Homo sapiens: one gene and its partners. The protein of the gene in region 1 purifies or fractionates together with the protein of each later gene. This does not show direct contact. Each region holds a gene or a part of one and is shown in the gene's direction. Other genes may lie near its edges.

Evidence for each region.
Region 2: the proteins of PHYHIPL (region 1) and DBT purify together in Homo sapiens (co-immunoprecipitation; one large-scale study listed by IntAct). This does not show direct contact.
Region 3: the proteins of PHYHIPL (region 1) and SMCHD1 purify together in Homo sapiens (affinity purification with mass spectrometry; one large-scale study listed by BioGRID and IntAct). This does not show direct contact.

What each region holds. Positions count from the first base shown.
Region 1 is NC_000010.11:59,242,643-59,245,614, forward strand, and holds part of PHYHIPL (phytanoyl-CoA hydroxylase-interacting protein-like), read left to right. Parts: intron 1-2,414; coding exon 2,415-2,949; 3' UTR 2,950-2,972. UniProt on the Homo sapiens protein: May play a role in the development of the central system.
Region 2 is NC_000001.11:100,204,760-100,208,417, reverse strand, and holds part of DBT (lipoamide acyltransferase component of branched-chain alpha-keto acid dehydrogenase complex, mitochondrial isoform 1 precursor), read left to right. Parts: intron 1-1,781; coding exon 1,782-1,973; intron 1,974-2,116; coding exon 2,117-2,188; intron 2,189-3,658. UniProt on the Homo sapiens protein: The branched-chain alpha-keto dehydrogenase complex catalyzes the overall conversion of alpha-keto acids to acyl-CoA and CO(2).
Region 3 is NC_000018.10:2,662,133-2,665,790, forward strand, and holds part of SMCHD1 (structural maintenance of chromosomes flexible hinge domain-containing protein 1), read left to right. Parts: intron 1-3,658. UniProt on the Homo sapiens protein: Non-canonical member of the structural maintenance of chromosomes (SMC) protein family that plays a key role in epigenetic silencing by regulating chromatin architecture.

The sequences.
Region 1 (2,972 bases):
GTTCAAGAAGCACATACTAACACACTTGAAACACATAAAAACGGAAGCAGCAAAGAAATAGAAGATACAAAGAATTAAATGAAAATTTTGGAACATAAAAACACAGTAAGTAAAGTCAAAAGCTGGATAGACTCCATGGATTCCACAGCAGATTCAAGAGGACAAAGAGAAAAAAATCAGTAAACTTGAAGATAGAATAGAAATTACGCAAATTGAACAACAGAGATAAAACTCACCGAAAAATATATATCAGTCTTATGGACATGTGAGACTATAGCAGATCTAATATTCATGTTGTTAAAGTCAAGAAGGAAAAGACAAAGAGGGTGGGGCTGAAAAAGTATTCATAGAATTAATAGCCGAAATGTTCCCAAATTTGCCAAACAACATAAACATACAGATTCAAGCTGAGAAAACCCTAAATGGGATAAACCCAAAGAAATCCATGCCAAGATATATTACAAACTGAAAACTGCAGGCCAAAGGAAAAAAAAAAAACATTGAAAGTGGTGAGATACAAGACACCTTATGTATAAGGAAAAATAAAACAATTTGAATGACATCATCATCAGAAATTACCTAGCAAAAGAAAGTGACACAATATTTTCAAATGCTGAACGAGCACTGTCAACTGAGAATCCTATATCCGGTGAAAATATCCTTCAATAATAAAAGGGAATTAAGATATGCTCAGATGAAGGAAAACTAAGGGGATTTGTCAACAGCATATCTATCCTAAAGGAAGTTTCTGAAACAGGAAGGAAGGAAATAATAAAAGAAGGAAACCTGGAACATCAGAAAGAAAAAAGCACAGTACAAGTAAAAGTATAGGGTCACATCCAGGATATCACACATTTATTTATTGTGTTTCCTCATTCTCTTAACTGTGACAATTTTTTGGTCTTTCCTTGAATTTGCATTTTTAATAAGCTCCCTAGGTGGTTTTCAGGTGGTAGAATTCGAGACCCATTGCTGCTAAATTCAGAGGCAGATCCAGGCATTTCACTGACCCATAAACTCTTTAAGAAGCATGTTGACTGGGGGAACTTTCCCTTACTTGAGTAGTAGCTTGAACTTTGCTTCCCAAGTCATGCTGGTCAGGGACCCAGCAAAAAAAAACAAACAACAAAAAAAAGAAGGCAGCACACTTGGGGAATTCTGGAGAGAATTTAACAAAACTACCCCTTCATAGAGGTGTAGTCAGGGTTACGGTAACAAATAGGGGATGCTAAAGGAACCAAGAACTAGCACTAGCAAGACTTGAAAAGTTTTACTCTTCATGGGAATGAAAGGGAATAGGAATTCATCCAGCAGCAGCAGTAGTCAGAGATACATAGTTATGAAGAATGCAGCCCTGCCAGAACCACAATGCCCTAAAGCGTGGAGGAAATACAGGAAGACATACCCAAAGCTTTACCTCCTCCTACTCTATATATGCTGGTGCCTCACATTGGTAGAACTGAAATGGAAGTGGCCAAGGGATAAGGAACTGAATGCTAGAGTCCCAGGTCACAGTGGAGGACTGTGGTGGAGAATGAATGGATTTGGGGGTGAGGTAAAGTGGGAATAACTAGCACTGTTTTAAGCAAAATGCCAGAGAAATAACCTGATTACTGTCCTTGGGTTAAAAAGCCAAAACAAGGGCTGAGCGTGGTGGCTCATGCCTGTAATCCCAGCACTTTGGGAGGCCGAGGTGGGCGGATCACAAGGTCAAGAGATCAAACCATCCTGGCCAACGTGGTGAAACCCCGTCTGTAGTAAAAGTACAAAAATTAGCTGGGCATGGTGGCATATGCCTGTAGTCCCAGCCACTCTGAAGGCTGAGGCAGGAGAATTGCTTGAACCTGGGAGGCAGAGGTTGCAGTGAGCCAAGATCGTGCCACTGCTCTCCAGCCTGGCAACAGAGTGAGACTCTGTCTCAAAAAAAAAAAAAAAAAAAAAAAAGCCAAAACAAAACACAACGCTTTTGTGCCAGTATAAATGGACAGCACTCATTTTATGACTAAATCTATCATGCTTTAAAGAAACATTCAATATATTTAACCAATACCTTTAGTTCAGTTTTCTCTTCAGAAAGCCACTTCTGAAACCCAGTTGGCACTTAATGTATGTGTGATTTTACCTGTAAGGTTTCTAATTCCAGTTTGATTTTTCTGGCCAGGAAATTTACATTATTATGTTAATTTAATACAAAGTCTCCAAGGCTTGTAGCAGCTCATCCTTACCTTAAGGTCAAAGCTAGAATACAGCCATCTATAGGTAATATGTCAAAAGATGTTGTCCCCTTATTCTGATAGTAAGAGAGGTATTCAGGCCTTTAACAGTAGATGTTTGACTTTTAGGCCATTCAAATATATAAATCAGTGGGTTTACCACTATTGTATTAAGCAGTGACCACTTGTTTTCTCTTGCAGAGAACATCATGGGAATGCTATGCAGCCATCTGTCAAGGATAACAGTGGTAGCCATGGCTCTCCTATCAGTGGAAAATTAGAAGGCATCTTCTTCAGCTGCAGCACTGAATTCAATACTGGAAAGCCACCCCAGGATTCACCTTATGGAAGATACAGGTTTGAGATTGCCGCAGAAAAACTTTTTAACCCCAATACTAACTTATACTTTGGGGACTTCTACTGTATGTACACTGCTTATCATTATGTGATTCTTGTTATTGCTCCTGTGGGATCACCAGGAGATGAATTTTGTAAGCAGCGCCTTCCTCAACTAAATTCTAAGGATAATAAATTTTTGACCTGTACAGAAGAAGATGGGGTGCTGGTTTACCACCATGCCCAGGATGTCATTTTAGAAGTCATTTACACTGACCCTGTGGATCTTTCTGTGGGCACCGTGGCAGAAATCACTGGTCATCAGCTCATGAGTTTGTCTACTGCAAATGCAAAGAAAGATCCCAGCTGCAAAACCTGTAATATCAGTGTTGGACGTTAATGCCCACTTTTCTTATTCTTACT
Region 2 (3,658 bases), on another chromosome or scaffold:
TTCATGTTGTCATATGTTCTCCAGAAAGTCTCTACAGTTTAAGTATCCGTTACCTGAAATGCTTGGGACCAGAAGCGTTTTTGGATTTAAGATTTTTTTGGATTATGGAATATTTGCATATACAAAGGAGATATCTTGAGGACAGGACTCAAGTGCAAACATGAAATTCACTTATGTTTCATTTACCCCTCATACACATAGCCTAAAGGTAATTTTATACAATATTTTTAACATTTTTGTGCATGAAACAAAGTTGGATTTGTTTTTTTTTGTTTTTGTTTTGGAGACAGAGTCTTGCTCTGTGGCCCAGGCTGGAGTGCAGTGCTGCGATCTCGGCTCACTGCAAACTCTGCCTCCTGGGTTCATGCCATTCTCCTGCTTCAGCCTCCTGAGTAGGTGGTACTGCAGGAGGCTGCCACTACGCCTGGCTAATTTCTTTTTGTATTTTTCGTACAGATGGGGTTTCACTGTGTTAGCCAGGATGGTCTCCATCTCCTGACCTCGTGATCCGCCCGCCTCGGCCTCCCAAAGTGCCGGGATTACAGGCGTGAGCCACTGTGCCCGGCCACAAAGTTTTTTTTTTTTCTTTTTTTGACACAGAGTTTTGCTCTGTCACCCATGCATAATCATAGCTTATTGTAACCTAAAACTCTTGAGGTCAAATGATCCTCCCACCTCAGCCTCCCAAGTAGCTGAGACTATAGGCATGTGCCATAATTTAAAAAAAAATTTTTGTAGCTAATTAAAAAAAATTTTTTTGTAGAGATGGAGTCTTGCTATGTTGCCCAGGCTGGTCTCAAACTCCTGGCCTCAAGCAATCCTTCTGTGTCAGTCTCCCAAAGTGTTGGGATTATAGGCATGAGCCACTATGCCCTGCCAGAACAATGGCTGCATTTTTCTCTTTTTTTTTTATTGATGGGCTCTGATATGATTAAATATTATAAAATGAGAACTGTTTCAACAACTATGCAGCATAATGTTTAAGGACAAAATATTGAATATACTTTTTATTATATATGTATTTTATCACATAGTAAGGAATGCTGAGGTGCTTAATCCATCCAATAAATTGAAAATAAAATCTTTACATTTCTATATTTGTCAGTATACAGAATTCTGAAGATGGATCTTGACTCAGGGTGATAAATCAGTTTTCAAGGAAATTGGCTACATCACATGACGTCATTTCAGCCCCCAGAAGTTTCAGATGTTGGAGCATTTCAGATTTCAGATATTTGGACTAGGGATGCTCAACCTGTACCAGTTACATTCCCACTAACGATGTTGGGAAATAGCCTATTGCCTACATTCTTATCAATAAAAAATTATCATCTTTTTTTGGACAGAGTCTCACTCTGTCTCCCAGGCTGGAGTGCAGTGGCACAATCTCGGCCCACTGCAACCTCCACCTCCCAGGTTCAAGCGATTCTCGTGCCTCAGCCTCCCGAGTAGCTGGGATCACAGGCCTGTGCCACCATGCTAATTTTTGTATTTTTAGTAAAGATGGGGTTTCACTATGTTGGCCAGGCTGGTCTTGAACTCATGACCTCAGGTAATCCAGCCACCTTGGCCTCCCAGAGTGCTGGGATTACAGGCATGAGCCACTGCGCCTAGCCCAAAAAATCTTTTAAAAATTATTTTTAAATTATTTCTTTTAAATCACTACCAATCTGGTAAAAATGAGTTTTGGTAGTGGTTTCTAGATGGCAGTGAAGGTTGATCCTTTCTTTGCTGTTAGCTTATTCATTAAAAGCCCTACTGTACAATTTTTTATTTTTTAGGCTTCTCATAACATTGGGATAGCAATGGATACTGAGCAGGGTTTGATTGTCCCTAATGTGAAAAATGTTCAGATCTGCTCTATATTTGACATCGCCACTGAACTGAACCGCCTCCAGAAATTGGGCTCTGTGAGTCAGCTCAGCACCACTGATCTTACAGGAGGAACATTTACTCTTTCCAACATTGGATCAGTGAGTAATAATGTTGAAATACATAAACCATTACTTAAGGTTTCTGATCATATGCTTAATTAAAAATAGAAAAGTCACTTGGCATTTGTTCCCTGAAAAATCTTAACTTTTAATACTCTCCTTTTTTTTTTTTTAAAAAATAGATTGGTGGTACCTTTGCCAAACCAGTGATAATGCCACCTGAAGTAGCCATTGGGGCCCTTGGATCAATTAAGGTACATGTATTAGATAACTGAAAAATGGAGTTTAAGCAAATTCAGGGACTAAACACAATGAAGAGTAACCATTTCTAAGGTTTCCCCTCCTTTTGTAGGTTTTAAGTTTCTGAGTTTATCTTAGAAAGTCTATTATTTCTTTTTTTTTTTTTTTTTTAACTTTAAGTTCTGGGATACATGTGCAGAATGTGCAGGTTTGTTACATGAGTATACACCTGCCATGGTGGTTTGCTGCACCCATCAACCCGTCATCTACATTAGGTATTTCTTCTAGTGATATTCCTCCCCTAGCCCCAGACCCCACGACAGGTCCCCAGTGTATGGTGTTCCCCACCCTCTGTCCATGTGTTCTCATTTTTCAACTCCCACTTATGAGTGAGAACATGCAGTGTTTGGTTTTCTGGTTTCCAGCTTCATCCATGACCCTGCAAAGGACATGAACTCACTCTTTTTTATGGCTGCATAGTATTCCATGGTGTATATGTGCCACATTTTCTTTATCCAGTCTAACTAACATTGATGGACATTTGGGTTGGTTCCAAGTCTTTGCTATTGTGAATAGTGCTGCAATAAACATACATGTGCATGTGTCTTTATAGTAGCATGATTTATAATCCTTTGGGTATATACTCAGTAATGGGATTGCTGGGTCAAATGGTATTTCTGGTTCTAGATCCTTGAGGAATCGCCACACTGTCTTCCACAATGGTTGAACTCATTTACACTCCCACCAACAGTGTAAAAGCGTTTCTATCTCTCTATATTCTCTCCAGCATCTGTTATTTCCTGCCTTTTTAATGATTGCCATTGTAACTGGCATGGTATCTCATTGTAGTTTTGATTTGCATTTCTCTAATGACCAGTGATCATGGGCTTTTTTTCATATGTTTGTTGGCCATATAAATGTCTTCTTTTGAAAAGTGTCTGTTCATATCCTTCGCCCACTTTATGATGGGTTGTTTGTTTTTTTCTTGTAAATTTGTTTAAGTTCCATGTAGATTCTGGATATTAGCCCTTTGTCAGATAGATAGATTGCAAAAATGTTCTCCCATTCTGTAGGTTGCCTGTTCTCTCTGATGATAGTTTCTTTTGCTGTGCAGAAGCTCTTTAGTTTCATTACATCTGATTTGTCAATTTTGGCTTTGTTGCAATTGCTTTTGGTGATTTAGTCATGAAGTCTTTGCCTATGCCTATGTCCTAAATGGTATTGCCTAGGTTTTCTTCTAGGGTTTTTATGGTTTTAGGTCTTACATTTCAGTCTTTAATCCATCTTGAGTTAATTTTTGTATAAGGTGTAAGGAAGGGGTCCAGTTTCAGTTTTCTGCATATGGCTAGCCAGTTGTCCCAACACCATTTATTAAATAGGGAATCCTTTCCGCATTGCTTGTTTTTGTCAGGTTTGTCAAAGATCAGATGGGTTGTAGATGTGTGGTGTTATTTCTGAGGCCCCTGTGCGGTTCCATTGGTCTA
Region 3 (3,658 bases), on another chromosome or scaffold:
TCCGGCCTGGGCGACAGAGCGAGACTCCGTCTCAAAAAAAAAAAAATAAAATAAATAAATAAATAAATAAAGAAAGAAAGAAAGAAAGAAAGAAAAAATAATAGACTTATGTGGGATTATATGGAATAATTAGATATGTTTAGGTGAACATAGATCTTAAAAAAATCATTTGCACATAGTTTTTCAGTAACTACAGGATGCATAATTACATGATTTAACAAGTGGGACATTGGCCAGGCCTGGTGGCTCACGCCTCTAATCCCAGCACTTTGGGAGGCCAAGGCAGGGAGATCATCTGAGGTCAGGAGTTTGAGACCAGCTGGCCAACGTGGTGAAACTCTGTCTCTACTAAAAATGCAAAAATTAGCCAGGTGTGGTGGCACACGCCTGTAGTCCCAGCTGCTTGGGAGGCAGAGGCAGGAGAATGGTGTGAACCCGGGCGGCGGAGCTTGCAGTGAGCTGAGATCGTGCCATTGCACTCCAGCCTGCACAACAGAGCAAGACTCCATCTCAACAACAATAACAACAAAAAACCAAAAAAAAAAAAAAAAAAAAAAAGGGACATCATAGAAATAAAAAAGTAGTAATGAATTAAAAAATACACGACTGTCATGGTTATATGAAACCTAATAAAAATCTATAAGGTCATTTTTGTCTCTGTTAAACAAATAGAATCTTCCCAGTCAGTTTATGTTCATGGCTTTATTTCTCTAGGGTGGAATTGCATGGAATATGAGTATCTTTTAAGTTTACTAAAGTATGCCAAATTAATTACTTTCTTTATGTTTGACTTTTTTTCAGTCATATCAGCAGTGTGTAAGGTACCTATTTCTCTGTACAGAGGCCTACACTTGATGGGCTCAGAATTTAACATTTTTGCCTACCTGATGAGAATAAGTTATATTAATTTCACTGATAACTAGTGATGTTGATCTTTTTATGTTGTCTGGTCTTTTTCTTTATGACTTGTGCTATTTGCATCTTTTGAGACAGAGTCTCACTCAAAAGTCACCCAAGCTAGAGTGCAGTAGTGTGTGATCACGGCTCACTGCAGCCTCGGCTTCCCAGGCTCAGGGGATCGTCCAACCTCAGCCTCTTGAGTGGTTGTGACTACACGTGTGCACCACCATGCCCAGCTATTTTTTTTTTTTCCATTTTTTGTAGAGATGGGGTTTTACCACATTGCCCAGGCTGGTCTTGAACTCCTGAGTTCAAGCAATCCGCCCACCTTGGCCTCCCAGAGTGCTGGGATTACAGCTGTGAACCACTGTGCCTGGCCCACTGTTTGTACCTTTTCAGAAATCCCTTTATGCTCACTCAAAATTATTTCCCTATGTGTTCTTTTACAATTTTGGGCTAATGTACAACTGCTTTAATTCTCCTGGAATTTATTTTTGTCTAAGTTAAGGTGTGGATTTTATCTGTTTCCATGTTGAGATAACTAGTTGTCTTAATATCATTCATTGGATAGTTTATTCTTTCCCCACCAATTTGTAATGTCACCTCTCTTGTTTGCTAGGCTCTGCATCCATATATATGTGGACCTGTCTAAGGGCCCTCTATTCTCTTCCACTGGTCTATTCCAGGAATTTTTTTTTTTAAGACGGAGTCTCGCTCTGTCGCCCAGGCTGGAGTGCAGTGGCGCGATCTCACCTTACTGCCAGCTCCACCTCCCGGGTTCACGCCATTCTCCTGCCTCAGCCTCCCGAGTAGTTGGGACTACAGGCGCCTGCCACCACGCCTGGCTAATTTTTTTGTACTTTTAGTAGAGACGGGGTTTCACCGTGTTAGCCAGGATGGTCTCGATCTCCTGCCCTCGTGATCCACCCTCCTCAGCCTCCCAAAGTGCTGGGATTACAGGTTTGAGCCACCGCGCCCGGCCTATTCCAGGATATTTTAAAGTAGAAATTTTCTTATGAAAACCTTCAGACACAAAGAGAGAATCATGTTATGAACCCCAGTGTACTCATCCAGATTCAAGTTAATAGGAATTTACCACACTAGGATCATTTTTGTTTTTGTAATGTATTTAAGGCATATTCTAGGTCTTAGGTCATTTCACCCCATATACTTCAGCCTGAATATGTATTATCAAACCATTAAAATAAAGCATTTTTAATATTGTCTAATGTCCCTGTCCATATTGAGTTCTCTGAATGTTTAAAAGTATCTTTTTATAGTTGGTTTGTTTAAATCAGGATCTGACATAGTCCTCACATTAAATTTGTTTTTTTTTTGTTTCCTAATTATTTTCAATTTAAAGCATTTGAGCAAATTCCTCCTCCACCAGTCTCTTTAGTTTTCCTGCAGTTGACCTCTTGAAGAAATCAACTAGGTCTTTAATATTCCACATTATGGATTTGTTTGTGCTCTTTTTTGGTGTTACTTAATTTGTTTTATCTCCGTATGTATTCTGTAAACTAAAAGTTAGCTTTAAAGGCTTGATTTGATTTAGGTTCAACTTCTTTGGGGTCAGGAGGCAAAGAATGCTTTGTAGGTAGTACTGATACTTCATATGGCATTACACTGGGAGGCACGTGATGTGTGGGTGTTTCACCCACTCATAGCAATGCTAACATTAAAATCTTGGGATTCACGTGATTTCAGCAGGATTCCTCCATAAGGAAGTTTTGATCTGACTTGCCATTCCTCCTGTGTTTATTAGCTGGAATTCTTTAAGGAACAACTTTGCCTCATCAGCCAGAGCTATTTTGGTTATCCTGAAGTACCATTGATACAAGAAAAGCAGTGTAAATAATTTGTTCTTTCCCTTTAATTTGTCAGTGTTCAGAGTGACAAGTTGGTGCCCTAGCTCATCCCAGTGGTGAGCAATAATGGTTTTTATTAATATCATTTTTGAAGATTTGAGTATCACTAGTCTAGATTTTTTAGATGTTTTCAATAAGAATGTTAATCTTTAGACTAGTCCATTACTACCCGAAACAGAAGCCTTTTCTCTTAACTATATATTGCTGTATTGTTTCATTTTAGACAGAGCATGTATGTTTTAATTCTAATGTAAATGAAAATGTTAACCACTTTTCTAATTCTCATTTTTTGATTAATGTGATTTTACAGTTCATGTGTTCATTGGTCATTTGTATTTTCTCCTTTTCATTTTTTTGTGTTTTTACTTTTTCTCTTTGTTGATCCTTGTCACCCTTTTGTTTCTTGTTGCAATTTCCCTCTAATTTTTTTTTTTCTTTGAGACGGAGTCTCATTCTGTTGCTCAGGCTGGAGTGCAGTGGTGTGATCTTGGCTCACTGCAACCTCCGCCTCCCCAGTTCAAGTGATTCTCCTGCCTTGGCCTCCTGAGTAGCTGGGATTACAGGTGTGCGCCACCACACCTGGCTAATTTTTGTATTTTTAGTAGAGACAGGGTTTCACCATGTTGGTCGGGCTGGTCTTGAACTCCTGACCTTGTGATCCGACGGCCTCAGCCTCCCAAAGTGCTGGGATGACAGGCATGAGCTACCATGCCTGGCCAGTTTCCCTCTAATTTATAATTTGCTTTAATTTTTAAAGTTATTCGTTTGAATGGACCTGTATGTCTTACAAAGCATGGCTGTTCTTCCCTCCGTGCTATAAAATGCTAACTTCTGTTTTCTTCTATTTTGTTTTTGCATACTTAAATATCTAGTCTATATGAACATGAGTT